Linked DNA regions of Homo sapiens: regions 1 and 3 are each linked to region 2. Evidence: fine-mapped expression QTL. A gene starts in region 2. Each other region holds a variant in brackets. All regions are shown on one strand. Distances are from middle to middle.

Region 1 (10,963 bases), 160 kb after region 2:
CAGTAAATTTTAGTTAGAATAATGTCTTCACAACCAAATAATTTAAATCATATTAAAAATAAGTACTGTGTGACATTTAGCAAATTTACCTTTTTGTGACTAATTTCATTCATCTATAAAATGGGTATTATGAGCTTTAATAATCTTTTCAATTCTAATATTATATAATTATTTAATGTAAATAAAGATTATTAGCTGTCTGAAATATGTACTTTGGAGTAGAAAATAATCCATTAATATGCATTTAAATACCCAAATTGTGCCAGAAACTGAAAGTATAAGTTGAAGTAAAATATGATGTTATTTAAATAGAAACAACTATGGGGACAGGGTTATAAACATAAATACACACAGAGATATACACACATAATATATACAAATGTATTTACATTCCTGTAAAACATGGAAATGCATATATCTGTGCCTTTATATATTAAGCATTATATACCTTCATATAATAAACAGTAATTGTATTCATTACACTTACTGAAATATAAATTGAAATTTAATGGCTGGGCTGCTGGTTGGCCAGGTGCAGTGACTCACGCCTGTAATCCCAACACTTCGGGGGGCCAAGGGAGGTAGATCACTTGAGGTCAGGACTTTCAGACCAGCCTGGCCAACATGGTGAAACCCCATCTCTACTAAAAATACAAAAATTAGCCGGGCAAAGGGGTGCACACCTGCAATCTCAGCTACTTGAGAGTTTGAGGCAGGAGAATTGCTCGAACCTGGGAGGCAGAGGTTACAGTGAGCCAAGATCGTGCCACTGCACTCCAGCCTGAGCGATAAAGCGAGACTCCCTCTCAAAAGTAAAAAATAAATAAATAAAAAATAAACAAAAACAAACATAAAAAACAACAAAAAAAGAAATTTAACTAGTTTTACCTAGTTCATATAGATATTTCTAAAGAGTTAATGTAATTTTATGGTTACATTTACCCCACTCCTACAACTCAGGATGATGCCATATGATCCATATGCCCAAAGGCTGTATCAAAGGATAAAATAGGATTATTTCTAATTTAATTTAGACAGTCACATCACAATAATTTCCACACTTGCCTCAGTTTGGGTGCTGTTCATATTGTGTTTAATTTCATGTTGCTACATTCTCTTTGAGACATAAGTGTTACAGATATCTTCTGTAGTAATGTAGCCAAATAAGATTTTGTGGTGATGGTAGTTTGTGTGTGTTCCTGTGTATGTGTGTGTTGGGTGTAAGTGACTTTAGATAGAACTCATATCCTTCAAACATTGAAAAGTCAACCACTATTTTTATTCAGTTTGCGTTTTTGTATTATGTTTTAGTTACTGTATTCAAAATATTATATTCTCTCTATATCTCCCTGAACAGCATATTTTATTATAGGTATCCTTACCTTTAAGTAGTAATAAATGTTTTCGACCTAGTAAGTTCCTGTTCTGTGTGGGAAACACGGGAGGGAGAAGAAAAGACACACACACACTACCTTAAAGGGTAAAAAACCTTTATCCCATGTAAATGGCAATGCAGATGTAATGAGCAAATGATATAATAAGCAGATTGATATAATAAGCAAATGATATAATAATAAGCAGATGATACAGTAAGCAGATTGATATGATAAGCAAATTGCAATGGGAAAGGGAGAAGGGAAAAGATATTTACACTCACCAGACTATGGAGGATTCACCACCAGACTGGGAAGCAACAGTCTCGGCTCCAGAGTTGGCCACTCATGTCTGTGCACAGGCGAGGAGAGGTCTCATGAAGTTTCGGCGCAGTCTGGGACCCTAACTCTTTTTGTAATGAGTTGTTTCGCATAAGGTCCAGTCAAGAGGGCTCTTTGTGACTGGGCTCAAGGAACACAAAAAGGTCAACTTGTTTTTGTGATTGTCTATTGTTTTCCGATAACTAACATATAGGAATAGATTGAAATAGAGATTTCTCTGAAACAGTGCTGGATGAATGCCTCAAGGAGCTCACACAACCTGTTTCGGGACTTGGTGACTGTTGTTTGTGTCCATGTTCAATTGAGTTCAAATTTAATATTTAACTTTCCCTTCACAGTCGGCCTCCATCTGATACTCAATTGTAGGAAAATACCCTTACAGATACATAGGGAAGGCATAGTCGATATAGATTACAGATACGGGGTAAGCACAGGAGAATTAGAAGCACAATTAATAAAATACCACACCCACCATGGCTTTGCAAGGAGAGTCATATTGTGAGAATTGCCAGTGATATACACATAAGATTCAATATGCAGTAAATCACAAACCCCTCCTTGGGCTGCGGTACGCATATCTAATGCCATTCGATTTTGCAACATAACAGTACGCAGCTGAGCAAATTCATCTTATAACAACGTAAGTCCAGTGCTACTATCATTAAGAGCTTTTTGTACGTGTAAGCTCAATATTTTAATTTGTTGCTGAAGCAGGATTGTACCGGTGGCAGGGGAGAATACTGTGATGGGGTACCACCACCAGGGGGTCTGGTGCATTCATAATCAGTGATGTTTGTAAGCATCTAGATTACTGGGGAGGGGACTATTATCCTGGATGTTGAATGTAATTAATGGCCACCCTGAAGTGCATCTCCCCGTCCAAGTGGGGGCAGGTATTGCCACCCGTAGGATCCACGTGCCCAGAGGGCGCCCAGGGAACAGGAAGAGTTCTACTATAATTGTATTGCTGTCATGTGTAATTTAAGTAACAAAGGTGCTGTGTCTCATTTGGGTTTGGGCAAAATAGACTGTTTGGTTAAAAGAAGTCCAGGTTGGATTACAAGTGTTATTATCCCACCCCCATTGGTATTGGCATATCCATCCAGAAATGTTAGCAGGGATGATTCTCCAAGGTAGCCCATTCCTGGGGGCCTCCCGCGGCAACTCCACACATAGCCAGTACCGACTGCAGTTGGCTTGCGTTGCAACGGTGGCTACCCAGTTGATGAACTCATTCTCAGCCTAAGACATGATGACCCAGGTACTGATTACTAGCAGACAGGTTATTCTCTGTAATAACAAAAATGGAGGGGAGGATGCATTATTTTTCTTCGTTAGGAAATAGTACTATGCCTTCATTTTCTGCCCCTATAGCTACAAGGTCACAAGCCTTAGGGGCAGGATCTGATGGACACTGTACCCATATTTTGGCTCCAAGATTTAAGTTGCCCCCTTTGGTGGACCTGAATTCTCCGGTTCTGTATGTTATTTCTATTGGGGCAGAAATTTCCTTGGGGGTTAATTGTTGACAAGGTACCACTAACAATTGAGCAACCCGCATCTGAGGTTATATAGCAAAAGAATCTGGAGTGGTATTATATAAAATGACCTTTAACTCTCCCTGGTAATCACTATCAATTATATCACCATACATTATGATGCCTCTCATTGCAAGACTTAAACTTATTGTAATCCACTCATCCACATTCAAGTTTGCAGTTATGGTGGGAATTTTGCCCTGTTGATCTGCCCGCTGATTAAATAGTCTGTCAAGAGAAAGCCGAAGATGCATGAGCATCAACATGGAAAACAGTGACAATGGCAGTGTGAGGATATTGCTTTTTCCCATTAATTTTTCATATTTTAATACTATTAGTTTGAAAATGAGCATTTGATATGGCAAAGTATACGTAGAGTGTCAAATTGAAGTAAATGCTGCTTTCATTATTTTATCACAAAGCTACTCGACAATAAAGAGGAATGAAGCACTATTGAATGTTGTACCTCACAGTCATGCTCTGTAGGAATGCTTTGTTCATTAAAGTAATAGTTCCAGTAAAGATTCCTCTGGGGATTAGCTGGCAGAGTGGCTTTATACACAGGCATTTTTTTTTCATAACAATTCACTAATAAATTATGGATAAAAATACAGCTACCCAAAGTGGGTAACATCTTAGAGGAGCTCTGCAATGCTGTGACATGGTGAGTGTATCAAGAACATTCTCTTGTTTTTTTCTATTGCCAGATGTCTAGAGTCCCTCCATCCTCTGGGCATCATCCAAGAAGTCTGGGCCAAAGAAAAAGAAAAATTAGAAATCAAAGATAAAATGTTTACTCTCTAATAAGTTCCAGTTTTTAACGTACTCGGGCTCCTTTATTTAGTCGTCAAGCCAGTATATACCAATAACATTGTAACAGTTTGCTTCAGTAATAAAAATCTATTACAGCATACAGTGGTAACATGTGTTCTAACATGTAATTCCTGACGTTGAGCTTCACTGTGTAATGAAATATTAACATAATTTAAAATATAATATGCAATCAAGAAGATGCTAAAAGGATAGTAGATAGCATTAAAATAAACTAATCATTAATAGTTTATTAGTAGATAATGGGGTAGATTATGTGATATATATAAATAAACATCTGTCATAGGACCTGTCACATAGAAGCCACTCAAATATTTTGTTGAATCAATGACTGCTTAGACTCCTAGCTGACCATTTTTCTTATTTAGTCATGGTGATTACATTCAATTTTGGTTACTATATTCAAAAGGTTTTAATCTCACCAATATTATCTACTGGAAACTAACCTTTCACTAAAGATGTCCTTAGGCTTCTAGAAGCAACACCATAACATTTTCTCATCTTCCTGCTTATCAGGCAGTGATGAAATTTCCTCTGATACTGTCTATTGAAGAGAAATTTTAAAAGAATACATGAAACTTAATTCAGAATTTCAAGGACTCCAAACCATTCTGTAGAAATTATTTCAGAAACCAGATAGAAGTTATTCCTCTAAGTGACATTCCACTGAAGTGATTTTTGCAGAGATCATTATAACTATTGTTGCTGCTGAGTCAGATGACTCTTTTCAGTCTGTAGGCAACTCAAACCCATGGTACATTGGTCACCATTAATCATCCACTCCTCTCCTCTTAAAATTATCTCCTTTCTTAGTTTCATGGTATTTGTTTCTCTGGTGTTTCTCTTATGTCTGGGTATTTCTTTTTACCTTCCTGGCAAAATTGTCTTCTCTTAATGACCCCTAAAGTGCTGGTATTCTCCAAAGCTCTATCCTCGGTTTTCTTCTCTTCCTTGACATACCATTTGCTCAGGTAATCTCATTTACTCCTTTGGTTTAATGGCCCACCAATATATAGATAGCTCTGAAACTGGCTAGTCCAACCTAACTGCGTAAACTCCACACCCATGTAGCTAACTTCTTACTAGATATTTATTTGCTGGTTTCATTTAAAATTCCATGTCTAAAGTTTAACTCAATATCTTAACCTTAAAATTTGTTTCTGTATTTTAATAGTTTAATTACCCATTCTGTTGCCCGTGTCAGTTAAACAATGTTATCCTGTTCCTTATTCACATATCTAATAGATGAATGAAGACTTACAAATTTTACTTATCTGATATTTCTTGAACCTGTCCATGCAGCATTGTATTCATTCTCATTGCCTCCACTCTGGCTGTCATTATGGTTTGCTTGGTCTGTTAAAATATACACTGTTTTCCTAATCTCAATTTTTTAACTTCTAATTCATTCTACTTCCACCATAGTGAAGTTTTTAAAAGTATTTGTCACCCCCTTAGAAAAATTCAAGATAAAATTTTACTTCTTCATTATGGATGTGAATACTCTTCTTTGCTTATCTGTGCTCTTGGCATCTCCCCCACATACCTTTTGCTCATTATACTATGTCTCTACTTAACTACTGACAGTACTTGAGTGTGCCATGTTCTCTTACAATTTTATGAACTCACAGCT[G/T]CTACTCCCTCTGCTCAGAAAGCCTCCTGCTCTCACCACTTAACTTGGCAAATTTCTCAATCCTCTTGAAAATTTAAGTCAGATGTAACTGCTATGGGAAATCTTCTCCAATCCTGCCAGCTTTCTTCCTCCAGGCAGCCATCCTTCATACCCATATAAAATCTTTTCTCTTATTGCAACATTTTATATAGTGAGTGTTTTAACATATTTGCCCTCTAGCTTATTATCTAGCACTTGAAATAGTCAATAGCCATTATGGAATCTTACTTAATAAGTGTCATATCATATAATTCCATGATTATCAAGAAGTGCAAAGAAAATGATTTAAAATGGCACACTGCCATACAGCTTGAAGTGTATTACTTTGCTTAGAAACAATGAACATCTGATTTTTTTGTGTGTGTAATGATGGAAAATAAAGTAGCTGGTTGGAAAATAATATCCCAGCCCTATACCTAAAAATAGCAGTGGCTAGAATAAATGAAATTTAACACTGTAAATTTTAAAAGTGATATTTTTAGAAAACTCATTGATAAAAGACTAGTCATTGGTTTTGAAATTCTTCTTGATCGTGTATAACGTTTAAATAATCAAACCTATTAAATAAATCAATTCCAGATGATAAAGAAACTTGAACTGAAGTTAGACATAAATTAGATGCTTAAATACATACACCTAAGAAAATACAAAAGAAGAAAAAGAAAAAAATAATATGAATGGAGAAACCAAGTTGCCCCATCTTTTATTTTGGAGAACACAGAAAAAAAGCCAAAAATTCAAGAAAGAAAATATCAACAAGAACAGAAAAAAAGGAAAAGACTTTCTTTTTCAGGTAATATTTGGAAGGATATTGTGTAGAGAGGGTGAGCATAGGAAGAGATGAGGTGCCATGAGACTTATATGAATAGGCTGATTAGGGTGAATCGATAACTAAAGATTTTTTTTATTCATTCACTTAACAAATATTTATTGAGTATCTATAGTGGGAGTGGATCACAAAAACACCTAAAATTAAACTTGTAAATGATAGGTTAAGAAGTAATCTCGATTGGGTGAATCAATGATAGTTAAGAAAATGATTACTAAAATAGACTAATTCCTTAAAAAATAAAATATCTTGATTTCTTTGAACTCAGAGTTAATGGCCTATTCTTTTTTAGAAGATAATTGCCTTTAGGTACAAAACAATATACAGTGAAATCCTCAAAAGTTTTTTTTCCCTATGACCTTAATTAAGATCTGCATTGAACTTTTTTTTACCCTTTGTCTACTATATTTTTAAGGAAATAAATGCACTAAATCTGAACTAAAAAGTTTCAATAACTAGACAATGTGAGCTAATGATTTAAATTTTGTACTTAGTTGGAGCTGAAAGTGTATATTTTTCTCTTTGGTGAAAAAAGGAGGGGAAATAAAATAAAGAGAAATGTTATCACAATTTTAAAATAACCCATCAAAATAACCCATCAAAATAACGGAGAGGAAATAAAATAAAGAGAAATGTTATCACAATTTAAAAATAACCCATCAAAATTAAGGAGAGGAAATAAAATAAAGAGAAATGTTATCACAATTTAAAAATAACCCATCAAAATTAAGGAGAGGAAATAAAATAAAGAGAAATGTTATCACAATTTAAAAATAACCCATCAAAATAAAGGTTTATGAATATATCAAAAATAGCTTCTGCAGATGGAGAACCATGTTACATATTCTTTTAAAGCAACAGATGGGAGAAAATAGAAATTTTTCTTAGAGATAATTATATAAAAATAAAATCTAGTTTGCAACATAAATTTCTACCTATGTGTCCTATGAAGCAAAATTTATTGTAGATTTTTCTCTGATTTTATTCCATTATGAACCACAGAAGGAGGAAGAGTTCCATTACTCAAGGTTTCTAAAAACACAATAGAGAGAAATACTTTTCTACTTTAAACCCTCATTCACATTATAGCACTCATACCTTGTAGAGTTAGATTGCAGTAATGTTCACTGACATTCTAAAGTTTTTATATCAGCTCTGCTTTTATTGGGCACAGTATTTTCTGTTTATTGGTAATTTGTGGTTGCATTTTAAAAATACTGTTCTGTTGATAAGCTTTCATGATTTCTTAATGTAAAATTGAACTGGGTTTTTGTATACTTTGCCTGCAGCATCTAGATTTCTCTAAGAAAGTTTTTTATTTTAATTCAAATTGAGTTTTTGCCAATCTCATATACCACTGTAAGAGAATGGTTAATGTGACTTTTTCTACTATGATGGCATTATCTTCAAGAACACAAAGTTAAAGAAAAAAATGCTTTTCAGTACCCACATTCTCTAAGGAGATAACATTGACAATGGGACAGATTCTTTTCTTAGAAAAGTGACCACTTTCTCAATCTGTAAAATAAGACCAGAGGGAAGGCAAGAGATCAAGTGACAGGGATACCTAAAAGTATTACTTATTAAAAGAGGGGATGGCTGAAAGGAGAAGCCTGGAATCTTAATTCCTGCAAGAGTAGCTGATTGCCCTTGTTGATCTTCCTTGAGGCTGAGAATGGAAAAAGAGAATAGTAGAGAGAGGGCAAAGTAGATAGAGAAATGAGGGTTGAGCAGCCAGTTCTCAAACATTTCCTGTGAGTCAAATGGACAATGAGAGCTATCTTGCCTGATCTAAGAGGGTTGAGTGTTAATGGAGGAATTCCCAGAGGCAACTGAACAGGAAGTACCTGGAGGTACTGAGATGTTCAGGAGCATCTCACCAGGCTTTCTCTCCAAAATTCTACGTGTATCCAGTGATAAATCCAGCATTTTGATTCATTCTATAGAGAGGCACTGGTCAGTAAGAAACAAAGAAGCAGCAGACAACCAGGAGAGAGAAAATTACAATCAAAGATGGTGAAGTAATGAAAAATGTACCTTCTTCTCTTATAACCCCAGGCAGCACTTAACATAAAGAGAAGTCTGCGAAATAAAGGAAAGCAGTGGCACCCTAGATGTATAACCCTGCCCATCTACTGGGGTTTTGGAGTCGGATACATGTTATTTTAATACAAATTACAATTTACAAATTAATACAAATTACAATTTGTTATATTAATACAAATTACAATTTGTATTAAAATAACATGTCTCCTTCCATGTATCTTAACATGAATTAAAATAACAAATTGAGATATGTTATTTTAATACAAATTTAATATCAATGTTTTAACTACTTCAATTTTATGTATTCTTATGATGAATATCTTGAGTTTTACTTTTTAATTTTATGTTCTACCAAAAATGGTTTCAAATGAACTTATCCAATATTACTACAAACTATATGTATGAAGATCTGATTAAATACACAACTTTTGTCATTATGAAAATACTGTGCTTTCAATCACTTAAAGCAATTTTTGTGTGATATCACTATGCTAATATTTAAATTGGTGAGTTGTTTATAGTTTTTTGGGACTTTTTACCTTAATTTTATTTATAATTATGTAAAACATTATTAAATACAAAACATCTGAGAGTCAGAAACCACATAGCATTATACATTTAAGAAAGTCTTAATCCATCCTTGAACACTTCTTTTTTGATCACTTTTTGACTTTTCCTTCCAGTGGTTACTATTATAAATATAAACAAATGCATGAGCAAATGAAAATATACATATTCATATTTTCTTCTCTTGTACAAAACTTGGCATATAGTAACACCATTCTGCACTTTTTATTTTCATTTTAACACATATATATTCTGAAGATGACTTTATTTTTGTATTAAAAATTATTCTTTTTATAGGTGATTAGTTATATATCATACAGGCATATGACAGTATGTCCAACTAGTCCTTTGATGGTATAAGGTTGGGTTAATTCTTTATTTTTATTATTGCAAATAATGGTGGAATAAATAAACATGTATATATGTCACTTCCTATTTTGGCAGTCTAACTTTCATATGGATTCCTAGAAGTAACATTGTTGATTCAAAGGTGACTGAATATGTAATTTTGCTAGTGGTGTCCAAGTCCCTTTCCAATTTCAATCTCACCATCTGTGTACGAGAATGTCCCTTTCATCACAGTCTTGCCAACAGAACATGTTGTCAGAACTTTTATGTTTTGCCAATCTGATAGGTGAGAAATGAGCTCTCAGTGTATAGAAACAGAGAAATTCTCCAAGAGTGAGATTGAGCAACTTTCATGTTTACAATCTGCAATTATTCAAAACATGATTTTAATGTTTCTTATATCCCACTATATGAAAGGAACACGATTTATTTAATATTTTTATTTCTTTTTATTTATAACCATTAAGAATTTTAAAGGAGCATGTATTATTTGGTCTGATATTAAATACGTTCTCATGCTTATGCTCGTTAGTATTTTTACTAATTTCTTTATGTTTAATTGACAAAAAAAATTTATTGGATAAAACATATTGTCTTGAAATATGTATACATTGTGGTATGTCTTAATTGAGTTAATTAGCATATGCATTAACAGACATACTTCTATTTCTACATTCTTAGCAGTTTTCTACTCTCTTAGGAATTTTCAAGAATATAATACATTTTTATTAACTATCATCATCATGTTGTACAATAGATCTCTTGAAATTATTCCCCCTTTTTAATTGAAACTTTCGAACTTTGAACATTTCCCCAACCACTTCCCTCCCTCAACCCTTGATTCTACTCTCTCCTTCTGTGATTTTTGACTTTTGTAGGTTCCACACATAAGTGAAATCAAGTGGTATTCATCTTTCTGTGCTTAGCTTATTTAACTTAAAACAATGTCCTCCCAGTTCAACCATGTTACACAAATAACAGGATTTCTTTCTTAGGCTTTGGAGTGGAGTGAATAATATTCCATAGTGTGTGTGTGTATACATAAATATACATTTATACATATATATACACGTACATATATATTTATACTACATTTCTGTGTTTATTTATCGTTTGATAGATTCTTAGGCTCTTTCCATATCTTGACTATTGTGACTAATGTTGCAATGAGCATGGGAGTGAAGATATGTCTTCAACATAATGATTTATCTCTTTTAAAAATGAGTGGGATTGCTTGGTCATATGGCACTTCTATTTTTAATGTATTTGAAGAACCTCTGTGTAGTATTTTATATTGACTGTTCTAATTTAAATTCCTACCAACACTATGCAAAGGTTTCCATTTCTCCATATCCGTGTCAACACTTATTATCTTTCTTCTTTTTAATAATTGCCATTCTGTTGAGTGTTAAGTGAC
Region 2 (10,963 bases):
ACACAAAGTATATCAGATTGAGGGGTGGAAGAATTTAGTTCCTGGTCCACAGGAGGCATACAGTCTAGTTCTACACCTAAAGATCTACACAAAATGTTTTAAGCTGGATTCTAAGTACATTTTGGAAATATTGTAGATGAGACCAGGAATGTCTAATATATAAAGGTGAGAATCATATTTGATAGCAATATTTTTGAAGGATGATTATTTTGATGGAGGGCCAAATATCAAAGACAGGTCAAGTTAATGTACCTGACAGACTTGGGAGACAGGGAAGAGATGGGAAATGATCAAGATGCAACACACATATGGCCATTCTTTAAAACCATAAAGAACAAATTAGACTAATTCTAAGAAACCATTAGACATTTTTATCCCATACTGAGAAGAATGGTATGTAAACAGTGACAATACAGAGGTATTTACCTGGTCATGAGCAAATGAATCTTTGGTTTTGTTTCTTTATGGAAACAACTTTATATCCAGAGGTCTTGGTGAGAGAATGCTACATAAAAGAAAAATTAGACATCTGTAAAGGTAAGTGAATTAAAACTGATAGAGATCCTGAGACTTAAAATATATCCAAGAAAAAAAAATAGAAATGCATATCTAAAGGAATCTACTGGATGAAAACTAAGTAAACTTTACCTTTAAATTAGTAAGATTTCAACTTTTACTTCTATTTTCTAAAATCTTAATTAACTGCAAATGTTTATGGTTTGCATAAATAGTTGGACCAAAATGTCACAAAGGGTGAGCATAAATTCCACCTACAGGAGATTAGATATTTGCAGCTTCTGTAAGTAAGAGTTGGTACTGTGACCACCAAAAGCTTGACCACCACAGTTGAATTAGAGCTCCTCTCTCATACTTCTTAATGGTTTTGGTTGCCGATGTTATCAAGACATCCACAAAGTAGACTATGTTCTTTAGCGTTGTTTACTGAAGCAGCTGTTAAATTAATTAAGTTGGTATATTTTCCAAGTCTGATTAAGATATGTTTACTTCTGCTTTCACAAAACAGCTGTGATATGAGTACTGAGACACATCTTCTAAGAAACTCAAAATATAATTAAAATCATATTTTGTCCAGTTCAAGTAAAAGTTTACTTTTGCTTCTTCATGTGTTACTTTGCACTTATAGGGAATACTGGCATATATTGAAAATGCAAGATTTTGATTCCTTTAATTTTTATCTTAGTACTTACCCATTCACCATTATTGGTAACACATTAACATAGAGGATTAAAACATCAAAACAGAAAATGCAAATGCTAAAAGAAGCTCCAGTAGGCAAGGCAGATGATCCAAGAAAGATGACTGATCTAGACATGAATTCACCATTGGTCTGCTTCCCTACAGTTATGCTATGATTTGATGGAACATAATAATAGTTATGATCTGTTAACTAGAACCTAGAACTTATCTGAGTCAAATGAAGGGAAAGAGAAAGGAGGGCATGATTTCAATAAAAATCTGTTACACAAATAAGACAAAAGCTCAGAGGCACCTCAACTGCTACAGATGTGCTGCATCTGCTTGCTTGCCCATTGGGGACGATGAGATAAAGAGATTAAGACATTTACACAAAGATGGCTAGACAACAAGATCAGATCAGCAACATGACAGCTAGGTTGAGGTGTCATAACCATAGCATAGAGAAAGTGACCTACTGAACCACTTACCCCACTTACAAACAATGTTTTAATTAACTTAATGTACAAATGATATTTTACCAGGGTACAGGATGAGCTGGTTAATTCAAAAATGTCATTAGCATCAAACAGAGAAAACCAGTGATCTTTTAATAATGCCATTTTATTAAGAAAACAGCATTGGAATTTAATAATGGGGCATACATACTTTTATATCTTTTAAAGACAAATCTTACATCAAAACAACTATAACTTAAAATCCCATTCTCACATGTCAATAGTAGAAAATCTTGGTCATGGTATGTGAAAAGATTTGATGTTTACTTGGAAAACACAAGGTAGTTTGTTTCTTTTTAGTGGAACTCTAACAAGGAGTTTTGTTTGTTTGTTTCTTATTTTAAGCACTGTTGTTTCTCTAATTCCAGACATTGACCTGCTTAAACCTGAACACTGTGGATATAAAAGGATACAGAAGTGTACCTGATCTATAGAGCCCTTACTCTCCAAGCAGAAAATTGTAAAAATATACAGTACATAAGTTAACTCCATAACAGCAAAATTCTAAAGAAAGATGAGTCAGATAGACTAACAGTTTGTCTGTTACATATATAGATATTAATAGGGAATATATAATTGTATATTATTACAAATTAGAACATTAAAAGTCATAAAAGACATGAGAATAAATATAGTCACTCTTTCTGGGTCCTGAATGAAGTGTAGCCAGGTAACCTAGTCACCCCCAAATAATGATTGAAGTCAACATTTTAAATTTGAACTGACAGAAATAGACCTTACTATTTTTAATTAAACAGATTCAACGTTTCCTTTCTCTCCCTCTAAAGCATCAGATAACTTCGCAAGGAAAAGTGCTATTACATTATCTACTTGTTTCAAAAATATATTCACACCATAGTCTTGTGATAATATTGCTCTCTTTATAAAAAGTAGAAACATTAAAAGCTTTTATTTAGTTCTTGCTTAAGAAAGGAGAAATATTTAGTCCATTTACATCATGTAAAAGGTAAATTTTCTTGTTCATGTTAATGGTAGGAGGGCACCATGAATCATGTGACCGATAGCATTTCCTTCTTTACATTGGCTGCTAACAAAGTTAATGGCAGACCTAGCACCATTTGTAACAAAAACATCAATGCAGTTTTCTCTATAAACCTCATTTCTGGCTTCATCTTATCTCTCCTCCTATCACTTTACCGTTTGTCTTGATCTCACTGACCTACATTTTTTATTCATTTTTTTAAACTGAATAGATTTTTATAAGCCAACTTACATCCTTTCTAGGGCAAAGCTAGTTGAAAGAAATTATGTGACATAATGACTCAAAATGCCCAAATTATCGGATCATGGGTAATATAGAATGGTGTTCTAAGAAGGGAAGAGAACTTTCAGAAAGCTTTCTACACTCCCGATCCCTCTTTCAGGCTGCATGTGCTCAATTATACACTTTTAAAGGCAAAAACCTCATCGAACAATAAAAAGAATGCGTTAGAGCTCCTACACTTTGAATTTATTTTGTGATGTATTTAATGTGGTTATAAAAGTCCTGGTAGTTCTCTCTGTGAACCGACAGCCTGACAGAGGAGAAGAGCCAGTGGGGCAGAGAAAAAGCCACAGAAGGGGAATCTCCACAACGATCCCTCAGTTAACACATAAAGAAGATAACCTAGTTACTGGAAAGCAGGAACACGAATATAAAAAGTATGGAAGAGTGGAGAAGTATTAAATGCACACAAATTTGTCTTTGCTACAGAACAAGCAATCAGCCTAGATCCTGAGGATAGCGATTAAAAGCAGAGACTGGGTGTTTGTACATCATTGGATGAATGAGAAGCAGCCAAGAAACAGGAAAAGACTAATTTTAATTACCAGAAAAACTGCAAGAGAAAGAACACAGGGCTAGTGGTAGACGGCTTCCAGCTACAGGCTGCCTGGCACTGTACTCTCCTTGCCAATTAGAGCCAGTCAGACCCCATCGGGGGATTCAGTGAGCAGAAGAATCAGCGTCAGTCCAGGGTCAGGCTGCTCTCAAACACACATGAAAAACGGACACCAGCGGACACGGGGTGCGACCCTAGACTCCCATGCAGTTTCTTATACAGACACAGAGATAGAAAGCAGTACGTGGGATTTCCTTTCCATTAAATACAGGTGCAAACCACATTCTCTATGGAAATATATTGCAAAGGAAATGTTATATAATTTATTTAACAAATACCCAATTACCATCAGCCCAATCGTGGGAATTGGAAAACGACTCAAAGACTGAGAGGAAAAAAAAAAAAAAAGTAGAGAGGAGGACTGGCAGAACAATGGCACTAAAGCTGCCACACTGTGGATTTACTACCTGTGTTATTTTTCCAATTACAGCCATTGTAATATAAAAATTCCGAAAAAAAGGTTGCTGAGACCATTCCTTCGCTTTTTTTTAGAACTGAGTCAACACCCCAAATCAAAGAGAAATATAAACAGGCAGAGCCTGATAGTCCTTAGATGAAACGCGTAAGTGCAGAAACAAAAGAGAAGTGCTTCCCATTCAGGACTTAAGAAAATTCTGCAAAGTGAAAAAGTCCACTCTCAAACCGACCTAAGTGAACGCGTCAGTCTGTGCTGCTGCTGTCAGAGGTGTGAGCCGGGGACTACAGGAATCAGAGTGAAGACAGGAGCGGAGGAAGGGACTCTCGCCTGGATCTCCCGTGCCGACTCCAGCCAGCACGTTTGCTTTGTAATCTATGAATGTTAAATACGGAGGGGTTGCAGAGCAGAAACGCTCGGGGAAGGGGGGCAGGTCCTCTGTACTTAGCAGGGAAGGAAAATGCCGGTTGACTAGTGAGACGAGTGGAGAAACACAGAGCACCCTCCGGGAGGCGCACAGTTCGTTAAGCCCAGGGACATGCTCAATGAACCTTTGCAGCAAGAGGCAGTGAGGCGCTGGACGCGGGCGCCGGTGACAGCGCGGGCGGCCGGGGAGGGGCGAGGGGCCGCCCCGGGAGGACACAGCCAGTCAGAGGCGCGGGGCGCAGGGCGCGCGGACGCATTGGAGGAAAACACGCGAGCCCCAAACACACCAGCCGCAGGAGGCGCCGCACCTACTTCCCAATATAACCAACTACGGCGTGGGGGAGCGGAACTGCGAGAAGGCGGCAGCCAAAGTGCCATTAAAGCTCGGGGCGGAGAGGATGCGTTACCTGGGTCCCGTCTGCTGCGAGAGGCAGGGCAAGCTGGAGGATTCCCTCTGAATGATTAAGAACTCCGCAATTCGCCTCTGCCACAGGCTGCAAAGGACCCGAGGAACCGCTCTCTCTGAACTGTGCTGATGGGCAGGAGGATGGGAGACAGGAATTGAGAGTCACAGAGGAAGGACAGTGGAGTCTGGCATCTTATTGGTAAGTGGCTGACATTCCTTTGCCAGTGACTGCGTTCTGTGATTGTGCACTTCATCTCCCAGCCACTTAGGATTTTTGACACACTCTGTTCTGCAAAGCCATCCTTTCTTGCCATGTTGCCAGAATGTAAAAACTGTAAGATGAAGCTTTTTTAAATAAAGGAAACAAAACACGACTTTATTTCCTGCTGGGATTTTATGGCAAAAAGTTGAAACAAGAGTAAATATAACCTATTTGTATATCTCCTAATGCCACCCAAAATAAGAGTAAGCAATTCCTACACGCAAATTGCAAATTGTAAGGCAATAAATGCCAGGATAAAGTGAGGATGTTTCTACAAAAGAAACTAAATGTTTGGAAAATAGGATGCCGTTCTCAGGTACTGAATGTATGCCTTATGTTTGAGCAATGAGTTTCCGAGACTAAATAATTGGGCATCTGGCATTGCAATAACTTGTTAAAATTCAGTAGGGATGCTCTATAAGTGGAGTTCTACAAAGTTCGTGAGACTGAGAAAAACTGTATCTTGGATTATGCTGAGCTTTTTTCTAAAGGTTGTATAGGATTGTGATAGATTAAAAAATTATGTTCAGACATCCTTACCATGTTTTGTAGGGAGATATACGGAAGAGAATATCAATTTGCACATACACAAACCTGAGAATTACTCTGATGACCTGAACAATAAGTTGTTTCAACTATATTTATTTGCGAAAGAACCAGAATCCACTAAATATTTTAGAATTATATTACTTTTAAATCTTAGAACTGTTCTCCCAAGAAAAATACAATTTCATGTGGTAATTTAAATGCAGGTGAGAAGCAAAAAACTTTTAAACTGTTGTATGTTCAATGCCTTACCTACATTTCATTCATTTGTTTCTTAATTTAAAAGAGAAAATCATTTAGAGGGTCAATACTTCTACTTTGATTCTCAATTACGACTGTGGAAATAAGGATGAAAGAAGTAGATGTTCATTAGAATACTAGCATTTAAAATTATAGACAAATAGTCAAATTTAAAAATTAATGCAGATATCATCGATTACTGTTGAATTGCAACAGAATTACAGAAGTACTTATGACCATTACAGGGAGCTTAAAGGAGTTCATTATGATTAATATTGTGACTCTCAGTATTTTAAAAAATAATGATTAGGTCATTAACTGTTTTTGAAAATGCCTGTAGTCAATTTTGAGCAATTCTCATGGTTGCTTGCATATTCTCCTATTTCATGCTCAAATTATTCTAAGTTAAGTGGGGACTAGTATGCTGAGTCTTAAACTTAACAGGCATAAGTTTACTCTGACTCTAATCGAAAAGAGGTATGAGTAAGAATATGTCATATAAAACTAATGATAACAAATTAAAGATATTACATAAAAAGATCATCTAAGTCCATTAAAGGGAAAAAGGCAAAAAAAATCAGAGTTAAAGTTATAAAAAGGGAAATTCAATATAAAGAATAGAATTTGACAAATAGCTGGAGTGTGAGGGAATGATATTAAAGCCTATCTGAAAATAGAAAGTCAGTGAAATGATTATTACAAGTGCCAGTGTTTTTGCTTAGGAATTGGTGTATCCTTTAAATTATTTAAAACTTCTGAAAATTGAGAAAGGAGGAGAAAAACTGCTAATTTTAATTTCTTTCTGATTCCATAGACAACTGAACAGAAAGTTAGATTCTTAAAAGTTATATAAAAATATAATCCCATAGATTAACTAAATGCCGGACTTTGTCTATAAGTTGTGAGGCACATGCACACCAAGGTGCTTTTGGAAATACATCCAAAAAGCTACAGTTGTGGAATTTTTAAATGAATAGCTGAAATACCTGAATGTTTCTCAAGGTGAGCAGTTAGTACTTCAAGTATTAGGTGGTCTGAAACAATTCTTAGTCAGGGAGCCAACCTGAAATCAAATCATGAATCTATACATAGAATATGTTTATGTAAGATGAATCATTAAAATTAGTAGCATGTAAAAATTTACTTCAATCTTATGTGTCCAATTAAGTAGCGCTATCTGTTAGAAATGTACCAGGTTTGGCTGATATGTATTTCTTTAAATGTCTCTTTTACTTCACAGTTTAGAAAATCTTGACCACTTTCAGGGTAGAGGTAGGAGTGTGATTGTCTGTCACAGCTGACTTAGCAATATGGACCAGAGGGTGCCAGTAAAGGGCAAAGGGCCCGCATAGGCTGGCCAAAGCATTTTGGAGTTTGTCTTACTTCTAGACAAAATAAAGGCATAATTTGTGAAGATTAAAATAAAAATGATGAAAACTTCTCTAGATGGCTGTAATACTGTGAAGATGATTTGACTGTAGAGAGTTTGATTGGCTAAAACAAAGTTGTAGCAGAGTTTAGTGTCTCCTTCATCAGTCAAAAACTAATCCAGAATTTTATGAGGCTCAGATATTTACAATATTGTAATTTGCCGAATCCATTCTTTCTCATGTATCTTGATTACCTATTGTCTTTGAACTTTCTTTTAAAATACGGGTTTTTAAATTTTTACCAAGTCGTTGGAAATTTATTTCTCTTACTTTAAATAATAAACTCATACATTCATGTAGTTTGTTTTCTTGAAATTCTGACTCCAGGAGTTGATTTTATCTCTCTTTCTTCTTTCTGACAATCCAAGCATAAAGTAAGAGAGTAATATGTTTCTCACAAGATGTTAAGAACCGTGTTGTAAGGCTGTGCTAACATGTTACATGAACTTCTTAACACTTTATAGCAGGAAAGAGACTGGTCGGAAGCTCAAAGCGGTAGAATCACTGCAGAGGTCTATTTTCTGAGCATTTGTGATCAATAACTCCACATTAGAGGCTGGTACATTTTAAAAAGTAATGAAGTATATAAAACTCCTAATGCTTAAGATTTAAGATTAAAAACTATTATGAACTATATTCCATCTCCCTACCCACTCAAGTAAGAAATCCTGTTTTATGATTTTTGGAGATTCAAATGTGTATTGTTAGAAGTGTTCTAATAAACTGAATATTATTAGTTTATGTTTTTTCCAGACACTTAAACAGTGTTTTAGTTAATTATTTTATTTAAATTGAATGACACAAAATATAGTGTTTTAATACAGTGGCTATAAAAGCAATTTTTAAAGGGAAACATGAATTTGCTTTTTAAGAAAACTGGTTTTACAATGGATTTCTTTCATCAAAATTATTTTGAAGTATTGAATTGAATCCCAAGAAATTGACACAACACTGTATAACTTCAGTTATGTTTTGCCTATTATAAATATTTGCATAAGCTAATTGTAGATAATTTTATGTCTATTAATCCCCATAAATTAAAACACACGTCTTTAGTTTTATATCCCAGAGTAGTGCATGTTATATTTTTGACATTATACCCTCCTCAAACATAAGCTCATACGTGTTACAAAGCTATTCAAAGTATGGTAGTTTCTCTTTTCTCCAGTGCAGGGAACTGGGAACTTTCCAGAGAGGCCACAAAGTAATTGTGAAAAATAAATCAAGATTGTCTGTTTTATGGAAATAAAAAAAAGAATCTCATTTTTAATCTAATATAAAATAGTGTGAGATCTATCATTCATGAGAATCTTAAGAAATTACAGTCATATTCATTTCCTGTGTATTTCTTAAGCTAGAATTTCTTGTGATCACTGCCATTTTTAAACGTTTCAGAAAATGTTTCATTAGATACATTTTAAAACACGGGTGTAAAGTTGTTTTTTCTCTTTTTCTAAGTGGTTCTTAAAAACTCATAATGATCTAAATAACTTGTTGCCCAATGGCCACTTTTTATTTATTTATTTATTTTCACAAATGACCTTCTCATAACAGATCCGACAGGACTCACCTATTTCCTCTTATGCCAGTCATGTTTCCAAATATTTCTCACACTCAATTTGCATAGAGCGGAGATCTAGATAAAAAGCAAGAAGCCAATACATTTTATGAGTTTTCTATGAAAAATATTGTTACAGTTAGTATCTTTACTAGAAAATATGGAGCCAATTAAAGGGAAAGTGACTAAACTGAACAGAATCCAAATAAGCAATTGCATTTTAGGCAAGGAATATTTCATTTATCTGAATGATCAAAAATTCTCTTTCATAACCATTGACTGGAAAAGTATAATTATATATTTAAACATTTTATGAAGGGCGTAGAGATGTTCTTCATAGGATTCTTATAGCTGCTAACAACCCAGAAAGGAGAACATCTCATCTTCCATTACTATCCAGTAGTAAACGTAGCATATGTTTAGGAAGAGAAATGTTGCTGATTATATAGGTGATAAAAAGTTGATTGAAATTCTCTTCCTTTTGTGAGTTATAATATTGGCAGAAGCATTCATCATGAGGCTAAAAATACTGAGATGCTCTCATCGAGAGATATTATAATGATAGTAATAAAGTATCTGGAGCTGCAACCAGGTCTATTAATGTATTTTTACAAATATTTCATTAGTTGCAGGAGTTTGTATTTATCATATAAATAGTAGAGAAATGGGATGTTGATTTTGTGAGAAATTTACTTTTAAGTATATAAAGTTTTATCTTTATTTTCTTAAATAATTAATGTTATACTTAGAAGTATTAAGGATTTTTTTCTGAAATTAAACGAAATATAAAGGCAATACTCAAGAATTTAGAACAACTATTCTAATTCACCTAGGTTCTCCCATTTCAGTTACATGCAAGAACTTACTTTCAATTATGCAATATTTGTTGAGATACTATTGTTCTTGAGCCTTTAAGTGTACTAAACTAGACAAAATCCCTGATGATTAAAAGTAATATTATTGGAAGTTACAGGTGAGTGACAACAGGAATTTTTAAAAGAATTTTATTGTTTTCTAAAAATACATTTTTATTTAATTGGCAGTTTCATGATCATTAAATATGATAGGAATTCCTGGGCACTGGAACAGATTGACCCCAAATATATCTGAAAACACTGTGAAAAGTCTCATGTTTAATCTGTTAGGTATTGTATTTTGCCTTATTTTGTTATTTTAAAACCTTCTTCTTCATATTCTTTTCTAAAAGATATAGACTGGCTTAATATTATCTCCCATATAGCAAAAATTATTAAAACAACTTGTTAGTGACCACTATTTCTTTTCTAATTTTGTATTTTCAATGATAAGAATTTCAAAAGTTATGGCATTGATAAGAGAATTGAAACTCTAAGCTTCATAATTCTATTTAATACTCTCTTCCTCCTTCTGTGATGCTGTTATTCTAATGTGTGAGCTGGTGAATGAGAGTTCATGCTAAAATAACCGTATCATTCAAATTCAGCACAAATCTCATGATTTATTGATGATTAATTGTGGAACCCTTAGGAAAAAGTGACAGAATAAATACCATTTAATATTGGAAGGGGCCATGCGAGCTCATATTTTTACCTACTCATAATAAACAAAGTTTCTTCACTAATAAGCAAGGGTATAAAAAGGTGAAGTGATGTGTTCAACATTGCAAGTAATGCAAAAGATGGAATTAGAACCCACATCTCTTAAATTTGAAGATCAGAGCTTTTTATGGCTTATACTTCATTTTAGACTGTGGACATCTTGATTATTTTTGTATCTATTCAAATCAAATCCTTATATTAGAATATAAATATATGTAATTTCCTTGTTGCCACTGATTATACATAAAACATTGTCTTTTAAGATTAGAAATTTAAGATCCAATTATATTAACTCAGTGGAAACTGCTATACCCGCATTCTCTTAACCAACAACTACAGAACTTAATTGCTAGATGTGAACTTTTTCACAATGAACTTGGTATGCACTCACCAGCTACATCAAATGACAGAAGGGGTTTTTTTTTTGACAGTTTTAATTATGAAACTTGGGAATCTTTTAGAGTATTATAATGAAGTAGAAAAAAGGATT
Region 3 (10,963 bases), 480 kb after region 2:
TTTCTGTTCTTTATAAATTACCCAGTCTCAGGTATCTGTATCCTGTTATAGCAGAACAAATGGACTAAGACACCTAGTTAGTATCCATGTTGTCTCATAAAAATTCTACACGAGTTGTTGACAAAAATTTATTTATTCTAACAATTTTGAAAATGTTAGTCAACTCAATTTTGATATTTATTTGACACATGTCATATTTCCTTTTGCTGACAATGAGATATTTATAATGTTTAATCAATTGAACAGTTATATTTTTCAGGCCATATTGTTTTCTGTTTTTGATGTGTTTCCTATGAAATTCATGTCACAACATAAATAAAATCCTACCTCTTTCTTTATGTATTGGGTGCCATAGAAAAAGTTAGACTTACGTAAAAAATATAGGCTTTGGCAAGAGTATTTATGACTACTATTCTGTATCATGTGCTTATTTTTGACTTTGAAAAAGAATGGCAAAAAAATGGCTGGTTTCAAATATTTCACCATGTTGAGTTCTGGGTTGTAGCTTCCAATGAAATGGGGATCTGAAAGTTGGAGAAGAGTGAAAATAGTGTAATGACTATAGGAGTAGATTTGTTTGATAATGAAAAAAACAGAGGCAAAACACACTCAAATATTAGGCTGGCGCAAAAGTAATTGTGATTTTTGCCACTGAAAGTATTACAAATTATTGCTGATCTTGATCTTATATCAAAATCCTGAGAGTTTGTTTATATGCAGTGATAGTAACTCAAAGCATTTGAACAAATGGATTAACCTCTCTTTTAAGGCACTCAAATTAATTCCAATGATACCTTTAAAAAAAGTTGTAAAGCTAACACATTTGTTTTAATGGAAGATAAACAAATGAGATCTGAAGAGCTTAAAATGGAAAAAATATTTTTTTCTAAACTCTCGTTTCTATTTTTCAGAGTCCTTGTATATTTCCAGAAAAATGTTTATACCTACCCAAAAGTTTATCAATTTCCTTTTTCTTTCCTTTCTTTCTTTTCTTTTTTCTTTCCTTCTCTCTATACATTCTGTGTGAAACTTGCTTTCTATTTAATGTCACCTAAAAATATTTGGGACATTATGCTGTATATATGCATAGCATTATTTTTTCATGGCTACATAGTATTCCATGAATTGTATATATCTTAATTTATGTATGTATTGTTTAAGCATATTTGAATTATTTTGCATTGTTTTCATACAAACATAATAGCAATGGGTGTATTCCTATTTGCAGATGTCCTATCTACTTATCTAGACTTTTTTGTGTAGATTACTGAACTGAAATTGATTGTCAATAAGTATGTTTATTTAAATATTTTTAGATATTAACAAATTTCTTCCAAAATGTTTCAAAAATTTATACTCCTAGCAAAGCTATATGAAAGTTATTTTTTCTTACCTGTAATCTGTATGCCTTTTGTGAAAAAAAGACTTCAGAAATTTGTGTGCACAGTGAAGATCCTTGATATATGCACCATGCATACATACGTGTATTTGTATATATTCTCTGTTTTGTGTGTGTTTGTGTGCATCTGTGTGTGTATGTGTTCTATTTGTAAGAGAGAATGATTGCATTATGTCAGAAATAAAACACTATAAATATTTGCTGAGTGGGTAATTGAATGAATGGTTGAATCACCTATGCTGTTCTGTGCTGTTCATAGAATTGAGTTGAATCTACTATTCTGCTGGAATTATAATTGGGACGCTCAGTGACAAGCTTCTGCTCAGCAATTGGCTTTATAGTAATGGTTGTTCTGCTCCTTCATGAAATGAATGAGATCCAGGTCAAGCCAATTATGAAGGGAGAAAACATTGAAGTTAATGCAAATCATTCAGAATAGGTTTAAATAACCCTAGATTTGTTTAACTAACATTTAGTTTAAAGAATATTTGAAATAACTACTTCCTCTGTGAGTCCTTTCCCAACTAAGTAAACCTGAAATGTACATGCATCCTTCAAGAAACCACTGACACAGCCACTTTCTCCTGGCATCAGGCAAGATGCTGCAGTTGCAAAAGAACTGATTTGCTTCTTCAGTAGCAAGTGAGCCCATTCTTAGGACAAAAAAAGTTTTGAATTTTATCCACAGGTAAAAGATATTTTTGTTATTAGTGGAATCAGTGATTCAACCATTCATTCAATTACCCACTCAGCAAATATTATTAGTGCTTTATTTATAAAATAATGCAATTATTCTGTCTTAGAAATAAGGCACACCTGGTTTGAAAACTAATTTTCTCTCTGACTGTTTGACATTGCATATGTCATTCACATTCTCCAAGATGATACACTCACCTGTCAGTATTTTCAGTATTTGATTTTAAAAATGTGGAAGGCCTGACTCATAGGCATTTAGTGATTCTGTTATCTTCTTTTCCATCTTTTATTAGCGTAAATGATTGTCATCATAATCAGGTCATCAACCAGGGATTTCTGGCTTAGAATTATTCATAGGTACAACGCTGATGGCTCTTCTGAAATTGCCCCTGCATAGGTTAATCCACAAATTGTACATGTATCTAATCTTCGGCCTCATAACATTGTATTCCCTCAACACCTCCATTATTTTATAATTCTGCAACAGACAATTCAATTGTATTATGTTGTCCATTGCTAACATCTATGTTGGATGGTTTTTATCAACAGTCTGTATTGTAGAGGGTGAGAAAAACAGTACAGGTAGCAGGGTTCATTTTACCTCATTTGTATTTATTTAGAACGATGCTTTTTCAAATATTTCAAATATTGCTATTTTTTTCTTGTGTCTTTAATATGGTTAGGCTTTGTGTCCCCACCCAAATCTCAGCTTGGATTGTAATCCCCATAATCCACAAGTGTCAAGGGAGGGACGAGATGGAGGTAATTGAATCACGGGGGTTGGGGGGGTGGTTTCCTCCACGCTGTTCTCATAATAGTGAGTGAGTTCTAAGGAGATCTGATGGTTTTATAAGGAGCTCTTCCCCACAACTTTGCTTGGCACTTCTTTCTGCTGCCTTGAGAGGAAGGTGCCTTGCTTCTCCTTCACCTTTTTCCATGATTATAACTTTCTTGAGACCTCCCCAAGCATGCTGAACTGTAAGTCAATTAAACCTCTTTTCTTTATAAATTACCCAGTCTCAGGCAGTTTTTATAGCAGTATGAACATGAACTAATACACCCCAACAGTAACTTATTTTCAACAAAAGCACAGTTATGCTCTAGGTCCCTACTCTTCTAAACCATACACCCTCCTAGAGGTAAACTAAAGACCTATATGATGTCTCACTTTTCATCTTTACCTGTGTTTGCCAAAGGCACTTCAAACTCATCTGTCCTTTCTTTAACATGTCTTCTCCTTCCCAAAGTATTTTTCTTCACCTTCAGTCCACATTTTAGTAAATGACATCATATTTCAGTCATTCTGCATGGCTAGAAAATTAGGAATTATCTTGGGTTACAATTTCCCAAACTTTTATATTAAAAAGAGTATCTAACACTACCAGTTTTATATCTTAAATATTTGTTATATATCTATCCTTTCCATCTTTATTTATAGCACTTTTAAGTCCTTTTTAATTTTTACTTGCAGTTTGACAAATATGGTTCTTACTAGGATTATACTATGCGTATTCCTCTATAACCTTTTCCCTATGTAACTCTACATCTTTCTTCCCTTCACTTCCTTAATGTGTTTTGTCATTCCATGCCCACCATGTTCGCATACACTAATTACTAGAATGTGAGACAACCCCTCTTTAACCCTGTCATCCCTTTGGGTTGTCAAAACCGGGTGATCCATCTTTATTTATTGCTACACAACTATGAATAAAGTTTGTTCCCAAGAAAAGACAGCAACGTGTCTGGGTAAAAGGGGATCATATTCTCTGTAAAAGATATGCTAGATTCTCAGCCTCATATTCATTTGTTTCTCAACCACCTAAGAGCTATGCATTCTCCCAAGCTCAGTTCAGACATAATCACTTCCAGGAAGCTTTCTGCAATGCTGTGAGTGTGAAACAAGTGTGCCTCTCAATGTAATTTAGGGCAAAATCTGTAATATAGCACTTGATTGTTAATATATCTTTCACCTTTGTTGGACTGCAAAGTACTGAAGGACAAAAACCTGGGTCTTTTATTTTGTCATCCGCAGCTTCTAATAATACTGTTCCAGGCATATAACAGATAATTGACATATAGATGGGTAGACAGACAGATAAATAGATCTATATCTATTACATATAATGGAATTTTTTTTGTAATATATATTATATTCTATGATGGCAAGGAATTGTACCTCATTTCTCCTTTCTGTTAAACTACTTTAATGGCAAAATCCATTTTAGTTAATAATTATTCAATAAATATGAACCAAATTGAGTTAAATTAGCAAGATACATCGTTTAAATTACAATGTATTTGTAACAAAAATCTTAGTGTAATACAGTGATTTATATGTTACTTTTTAATATTCATTTTTTGCTTTATATTTGTGTGTTAATTGTTCAATGAGATGCTTGGCTTACAAGATTTTTCTCACCCATATTTAGGTGAATGTATTTGAATTATAAATCTGTGGTGAACAGGGGCTGCACAGATTTAAGGTAATTTTAATATGATCAACAAACTGACTTTTTTTAGAAAAGGTAGAGTTTTGATGTAAACTAATATTTTGATAATAATCCTAGCACCCATGGGTTTAGACAAGTGTTTTTACTCTTATATGATCCAAAAGAAATTAAAGTGGCTGGGCGTGATGGCTCATGCCTGTAATCCCAGCACTTTGGGAGGCTGAGGTGGGCACATCATGAGGGCAGGAGATCGAGACCATCATGGCTAACACGGTGAAACCCCGTCTCTACTAAAGTACAAAAAATTAGCCGGGCATAGTGGCACAGGCCTTTAGCCCCAGCTACTTGGGAGGCTGAGGTAGGAGAATCGCTTGAACCCGGGAGGCGGAGGGTGCAGTGAGCCACTGCACGCCAGCCTGGGCAACAGAGCCAGACTCCGTCTCAAAAAAAAAAAAAAAAAAGAAAGAAAAGAAATTAAAATATAATTTTACATTTGAGACACACTAACAATTCAGTTGTCTGATTTAATATTTCTACTCTTGTTGTGGATGAATGTATATATTTTTAATAGAACTTTGGATTTTAAGCAGGAAGTTACTGTAACATCAAGTAAATTGTTAGAAAGTCGTTCTTCAAGCTCCAAATGAAAGATTCTTCACTCTTTGAAACCTTCTTTTGCTGACTCCATAGACTTAACCACTTGTGATTAGAGTTCCCTTGACCTTGAAATTGCATTACAGATAGTTGTCTTTGGTGCTACTTTCCTTAACAGACCACAACTTCTTGAGTGCAGAAACCATAGTTTATTGCTCTCCTAATTCTAAGTGAAAAAGGAAAGGAGAAGAGAATGTAAAAAGCAGGGGAAAGAGGCAAGCAGAAATAAAATAGTCTTTGAATATTTTGCAGCCACTTAATAAATTCTTAAGTCAGATCCTTTTTGTCCCACTTCTGACTTCTGGTTGACTTTATGTCTACTGGGATGGCCTCTTCTCAAGACTCAATTGTGTTCCAGTATGTTTTCTTTCTTCTCTCTCAGCATACCTCCCATTTCGCCCAAGTTATACAGTAAACTTGCTGTTTGAAAGAAAGCGCTGGACTTGTTTAATTTATATTAAAGAATGGGTGACCATTTATTGCTTTTATATGGTATCCCAATTTGATGTTAACATTTTAAAAAAAGACATGCTGACACAAAGTAGTAAATCTCTAATGGTAGAAATTATCTGTACAAATTTGGGATATAAGAGCATTGATTATCAGTACTCTTTGTCCTGCTTTCCTCACTGTCCTGCTTTGCTGAATAGTATTTGCAGAAGAGAGAAAGAGTTAGTATGCAGGATAATTTACAGAAACAAGTATGATGTGGGAAGAATAGAGTTTTTTGAGAGCTTAATAAATTTTTTTCAACATAACTTTTGAATGATTCACTCTGGTCATTTAGACAGGAGGCCCAAATAGCAATGTTAGAAAGCTGCCAGAGAATTTGTTACACAAGATAAATCCAGCCTTTGGGAAATCTTGTGGTATTCCTAATTAC[C/A]TTCTTGTTTCTTTATACACGTAAGGCTTGGATGCTGGAAGATAACACAATTATATCTCCTCCCCCAATCCCTATGTAACAGATTTTCCACATTGAATTTCATTTTTGTTTTTTAAATAATATCAAACCTTTGCATTTCTCCAGGTTAGTAAAAATGCAGGCCTCATTGTGTTGCTAAAGGATCTTCCTCTTTTCCCCACTTAGAATTTTCTGAACCTAATCAGCAAGGAGCATTTTGCCAGGCTCCTGGTCATTGGTCCATAAATGAATGACACTCTTCAGGCCAAGGGCTAGCTAATTGCCAATTCCGAACTCTGTGTGTTAACTAGTGTGTGTTCTTTTCACTTTTCAAAGTCATAACGGATCAGGTACAGTGGCTTTTGCTTCCACATTTGAGCTGCCTGAATAAACAGGAGGTAATCCCTCACCTTAGGCTGCTGCATAATGCATTCCAGCTTGTTGCTCTGAGTATTTTTTGACAGCTTTAACATTTGTTACTGGTAGTTGATCTTGGACTTTTTGATCCATGAATCTGAATGGTACGGCTTGTCCTCATGCTCATCATTTCTTGGTCAGCAAATTAGTCTGGGGCCCTTGCTCAGGATCGTACTAAAAATGAAAATCCCCATGCAAAATAAGTATTTCCATAATTTTGAGTATCTTTGTTGAAAAAGAAAAAAATGTTCTCTCTTTTTAATGGCATGAGACAGTTATTCTTCCATCATGTGAGCATCTTGCTCTCTGTTTACAATGTGTATGTTATGCAGATTCTTATACAAATATCTTTTCTATTTTTTTAAACGAAGGCAGGTTCACACCTCTGTCTTGTGTCCACCTTTCCAGGTACCAGTGCCTCTCATTTATTCTTAGTTTTCAGTATTGCGATTTGTTTTAGGTAGACGATTTGCGCCTTGAAAAATAGTCATTGCAAACAATGAGTAAATACTTAAAAAAAATTATAGTGTTTGTATAGTAAAAGTGTGTGTTTTTTCTCTTCTAAATTTACTGTAATGTCACATTTTACTTGTAAATAAGTAGGAATTTCAATGTAGTAACGTAAATAAGTAAAATTAAATAACCAGTAGTTCTAAATACTGTTTTAATTGTTATTGTCTGTTTACTTCATAGTAGTAATTGTAGGAATATATTTCAAGAAAGTAAATGTAAAGTCTAACAAAGTCACTACATTATTTGTTATAGTAAAAAATATCAATAACCAAAATGCCCAAAATGAAGTAATTGATCAAATTTAATGAGAACAACCTGAGGGAATATTATATGAGTGGAGACAATTGTATTTATTTAAAAAAATATAAAAAGTTGAAAAATGCTATTTTTATGAAAAAGCAGAATTTGACATCTAACATATGAAATGATCTAAATCAATGTTTTTCAGATGTTTTAGTTTCCATTTTTAAAAATAAAAAGTGTATTGTACCTATGACCCTCATATATGCATACATAATACACAAATAAAACAAGTTTTTCTCACACCTGTAATCCCAGTACTTTGGGAGGCCGAGGCAGGCAGATCATGAGGTCAAGAGCTCGAGACCATCCTGGCCAACATGGTGAAACTCTCTTCTACACTAAAAATACAAAAATTAGCTAGGCATGGTGGTGCGCACCTGTAGTCCCAGCTACTCGGGAGGCTGAGGCAGGAGAATCGCTTGAACCCGGGAGGCAGAAGTTGCAGTGAGCCGAGATGGTGCCACTGCACTCCAGCCTGGCAACAAAAGGAGACTCTGTCTCAAAAAAAAAAAAAAAAAAAAGAAAGGTTTTTCAAAACAATAGTCATCCCATTAAATATAATGTATATTGACATTTTCTTTTTTCTCTCTGTTTTAATTTAATTTTAAAAGAATTTGAATTGTGACCTGTTAAAGTGATTTATTGACCAAAAAATGGGTTGTGATGTGTAGCTAACAAGACATTGACCTAAAATACATAAACGATGTACTTTGAAAATATTCTAGAAAGAAATGCAGTATAATATTAATATTTTATACATAACATTTAGATATGGAATATTTACATTTTTCCCTCATTCTGCTCCAAAGTTTTAAAAATATTGGCAGTAAACATTTTAACCTCACAAGTGTGACTCAACTTTTCACGTGCCATATTTTTTCATCAAGTGTAAATATGTTTTACTTTTCCAAGTGCTTTCTTCCAGCTTCTTTTCCGTTTTTGGTAGGGTAGAGCCCAGGTTTTAAAACACAGAGTATTTTTCTGGACCTAGTAAGTTCAAGATAAATAACTATTACATGAGTGAGTGAGTTAAGTGCTTGAATGGCTTTATAAAACTTAACTCAAATGTGTTTTTATGAAGTAAATGTTAGTTTTTATTATTATTTTATTCACTTCATTACAGAGCAACATCAGCTCTACTAAAATGGAAGTTAATATAGTCAAATGACATTTTCATATTCAAAATATACTCTTGTCCAAAACATGTCTTCAGTGTTAGGACAGAGTTATGTTTGGTGATAATGCTGTATAAAATGTCATCCTGCTGAAGAAAGAACGTAGGCTTGGGAGCCAAAACAGTTTGTAGTGATCTCGCTGAGCCACTCCGTTGTAAAATGAAAATAATAATATTTGCCTCATAAGCTTTCTGAGTAATTAATTTGTATAAAATACCTAGGTTCATGACTGGCACATATGTTAAGCGCCTGCCTTTCCTTTTCCCCAGCTACTGGGTAATATTTTAAAATATTTTATAATTTTAAAGAAAATTGTTGTCATTTACAGTCAGCCCTTCGTATGTGATGTGGAACCCGTGGACACAGAGGGCCGGCTTTTGGATCCAGGGTTGTTGACTGAGTACACCGATGCAGAGCCACACATACTGAGTGCTGGCTGTACTACCATTTCATACAAGCGACTTGAGCATCCACAGCTTTTTGTATCCACAGGGTTTGCGGAGCCCTTCCTCAATGGATAATGAGAGCAAACTGCAATTAGCTGTATATAAAATTACAATCTTTAAAAACGTAGGCTTTTATATCAACTGAAGTGACTCAGGTTCAGCAACGCATAATATAATTTTTCTTTTCTTTCTTTTTTTTTTGACACGGAATTTTGTTCTTGTCACCCAGGCTGGAGTGCGGTGTGGCGCGATCTCGGCTCACTGTAACTTCCTCCTCCTGAGTTCAAGCGATTCTCCTGCCTCAGCCTCCCAAGTAGCTGGGATTACAGGCATGCGCCACAATGCCCGGCTAATTTTTTATTTTTAGTAGAGACGGGGTTTCACCAGATTGGCCAGGCTGGTTTCAAACTCCTGACCTCAAGTGATCAGCCCGCCGCAGCCTCCCAAAGTGCTGGGATTACAGGCGTGAGCCACCATGCCCGGCCGCCAAGATAAATTTTATAAATAAATACATAAAGTGTAAATATGAAGTGGGAAAAAAATACCATCTAATTTTAAAAAGATACAACACTTACACAGATATGATATGGGGGGAATATATCTTAGAACCAAAAGTACTAAGTTGAATATAAATCATCATGTTGTACTATACCTATGAAAGGGAATTCTCATATATATTTCAGAAGATTTGGCCAACAAGAATAGAAAATGTCTTTGAGCTCATCCCTGTGTTCTTTAGGATCTTCATTTAAAAAGCAGAGTTGTCATTCTTGTTTTTTGTTTGTTTTCAGGGTGTACTAAAAAACTAAAGTCAGTTCACCATCGTACATGAAAAATTCTCAAAAAATTTGTAAACAAACATTAAAGATTTAATTTGATTTAATTTAATAGAGGAAATTAAGATTAATTTAATACAAATCTCTGTGCACATTCAAAATAGAAATGGTGAATTCTTCTTCATGTTCACTGAGAAGAGATAAGGATATTGGTTAAACTGGCAAAGAGAAAGAGCAAAAAGGGAAGGTGCTGTTGAAATTTTAAAGCAGTCTTTTAAAATATAACTGACCAAAATGATTTTTAGACTCTGATACAACAAAATAAGTGATTGAATTTTTGAAGTCTCATAACTTAATAAAATAGTATGATGTCCCAGAGGTTTTGATTTACATCTGAATAGAACCTTTTAATGAAAACAAAATATACACAAAAATGAATAAATAAAAATAAAAAATATTTTACTGAGAAAAAAAGAGATTATTGATCATTTAATATAGGGGTAATTTCCTTAATACATCTATTTATTAATGTTATGAATTAATTTTCTCAACTTAGAAAAAGTATTCCCTACATAGTATGAAAAATTCAAACAATGTGATAATAAAAGGTAATGCTGCACAGGAGGTAAACACACAAACTACTGGGCTTGAATTCAAGTTCTGACTCCATCTATTAATATTTCTGTAAGTCTATATACAAATGTCGCTTAATCTCTCTTTGCCTCAATTTTAAAAAAAATGTAAATGAAAATTAAAATAATTCTTGTTTCTATTATGGGGCTTAAATTGCGTAATACTGGCAGATTACTTAAAACAGTGCTTGGCACAGAATAACTATCCAATATATTTTAGCCTTTATAATTATTGTATAATAATATAGTCAAAAGACACAAGCAGAGAGTGCTTACAGAAAGAACAAAATGGGGCAACAAGTATATAAATCAGAGCCAACCATTCTTACAACCAAGTAAATGAAACAATGAGACCTTTGTTAACATATCGGATTGAAAGATTTATCTGTTGTTATAGGTGTGGGAAAAAAAGAGACTCTCAAACACTGTTGGTGAGAGTATAAACTGGCATAACCTTTCTGAGGGCAATTTAGAAACTATCAAAGTGAAACTGCACGCATCTTTTGACCTAGAAATCTGACTTCTAATATTACTGATATTTAAACATGTCTACAATCTTGTTAACAGAAAACTAATGGATGCAACATAGCAGTTCTAGTAT

Direction of the effects. Alleles are on the strand shown, and positions count from the first base shown. SD is a standard deviation of normalised expression in the study named. Not every link is listed here.
In carriers of allele C in region 3, the expression in tibial artery of the gene that starts at base 4,738 in region 2 tends to be lower than with A alone (small effect, 0.38 SD a copy in GTEx).

The links. PIP is the estimated chance that this variant, and not a neighbour inherited with it, causes the effect.
Region 1: its variant is the best candidate, but not a certain one, in a credible set for the expression of CNTN5 in aorta (GTEx, PIP 0.58).
Region 3: its variant is the best candidate, but not a certain one, in a credible set for the expression of CNTN5 in tibial artery (GTEx, PIP 0.86).

What each region holds. Positions count from the first base shown.
Region 1 is chr11:99,178,634-99,189,596 of GRCh38, forward strand. The region is part of intron 1 of CNTN5 (contactin 5); the gene reads left to right. Among named protein-coding and RNA genes, the nearest start is that of CNTN5, 160 kb to the left of the region's middle. The variant G/T (reference allele first, on the strand shown) is at 5,718.
Region 2 is chr11:99,016,212-99,027,174 of GRCh38, forward strand. It overlaps CNTN5 (contactin 5), which reads left to right and starts at 4,738. Exons shown (of 25, transcript NM_014361.4): 1 at 4,738-5,059. RefSeq lists a silencer at 7,115-7,315.
Region 3 is chr11:99,499,542-99,510,504 of GRCh38, forward strand. The region is part of intron 2 of CNTN5 (contactin 5); the gene reads left to right. Among named protein-coding and RNA genes, the nearest start is that of CNTN5, 480 kb to the left of the region's middle. The variant C/A (reference allele first, on the strand shown) is at 6,083.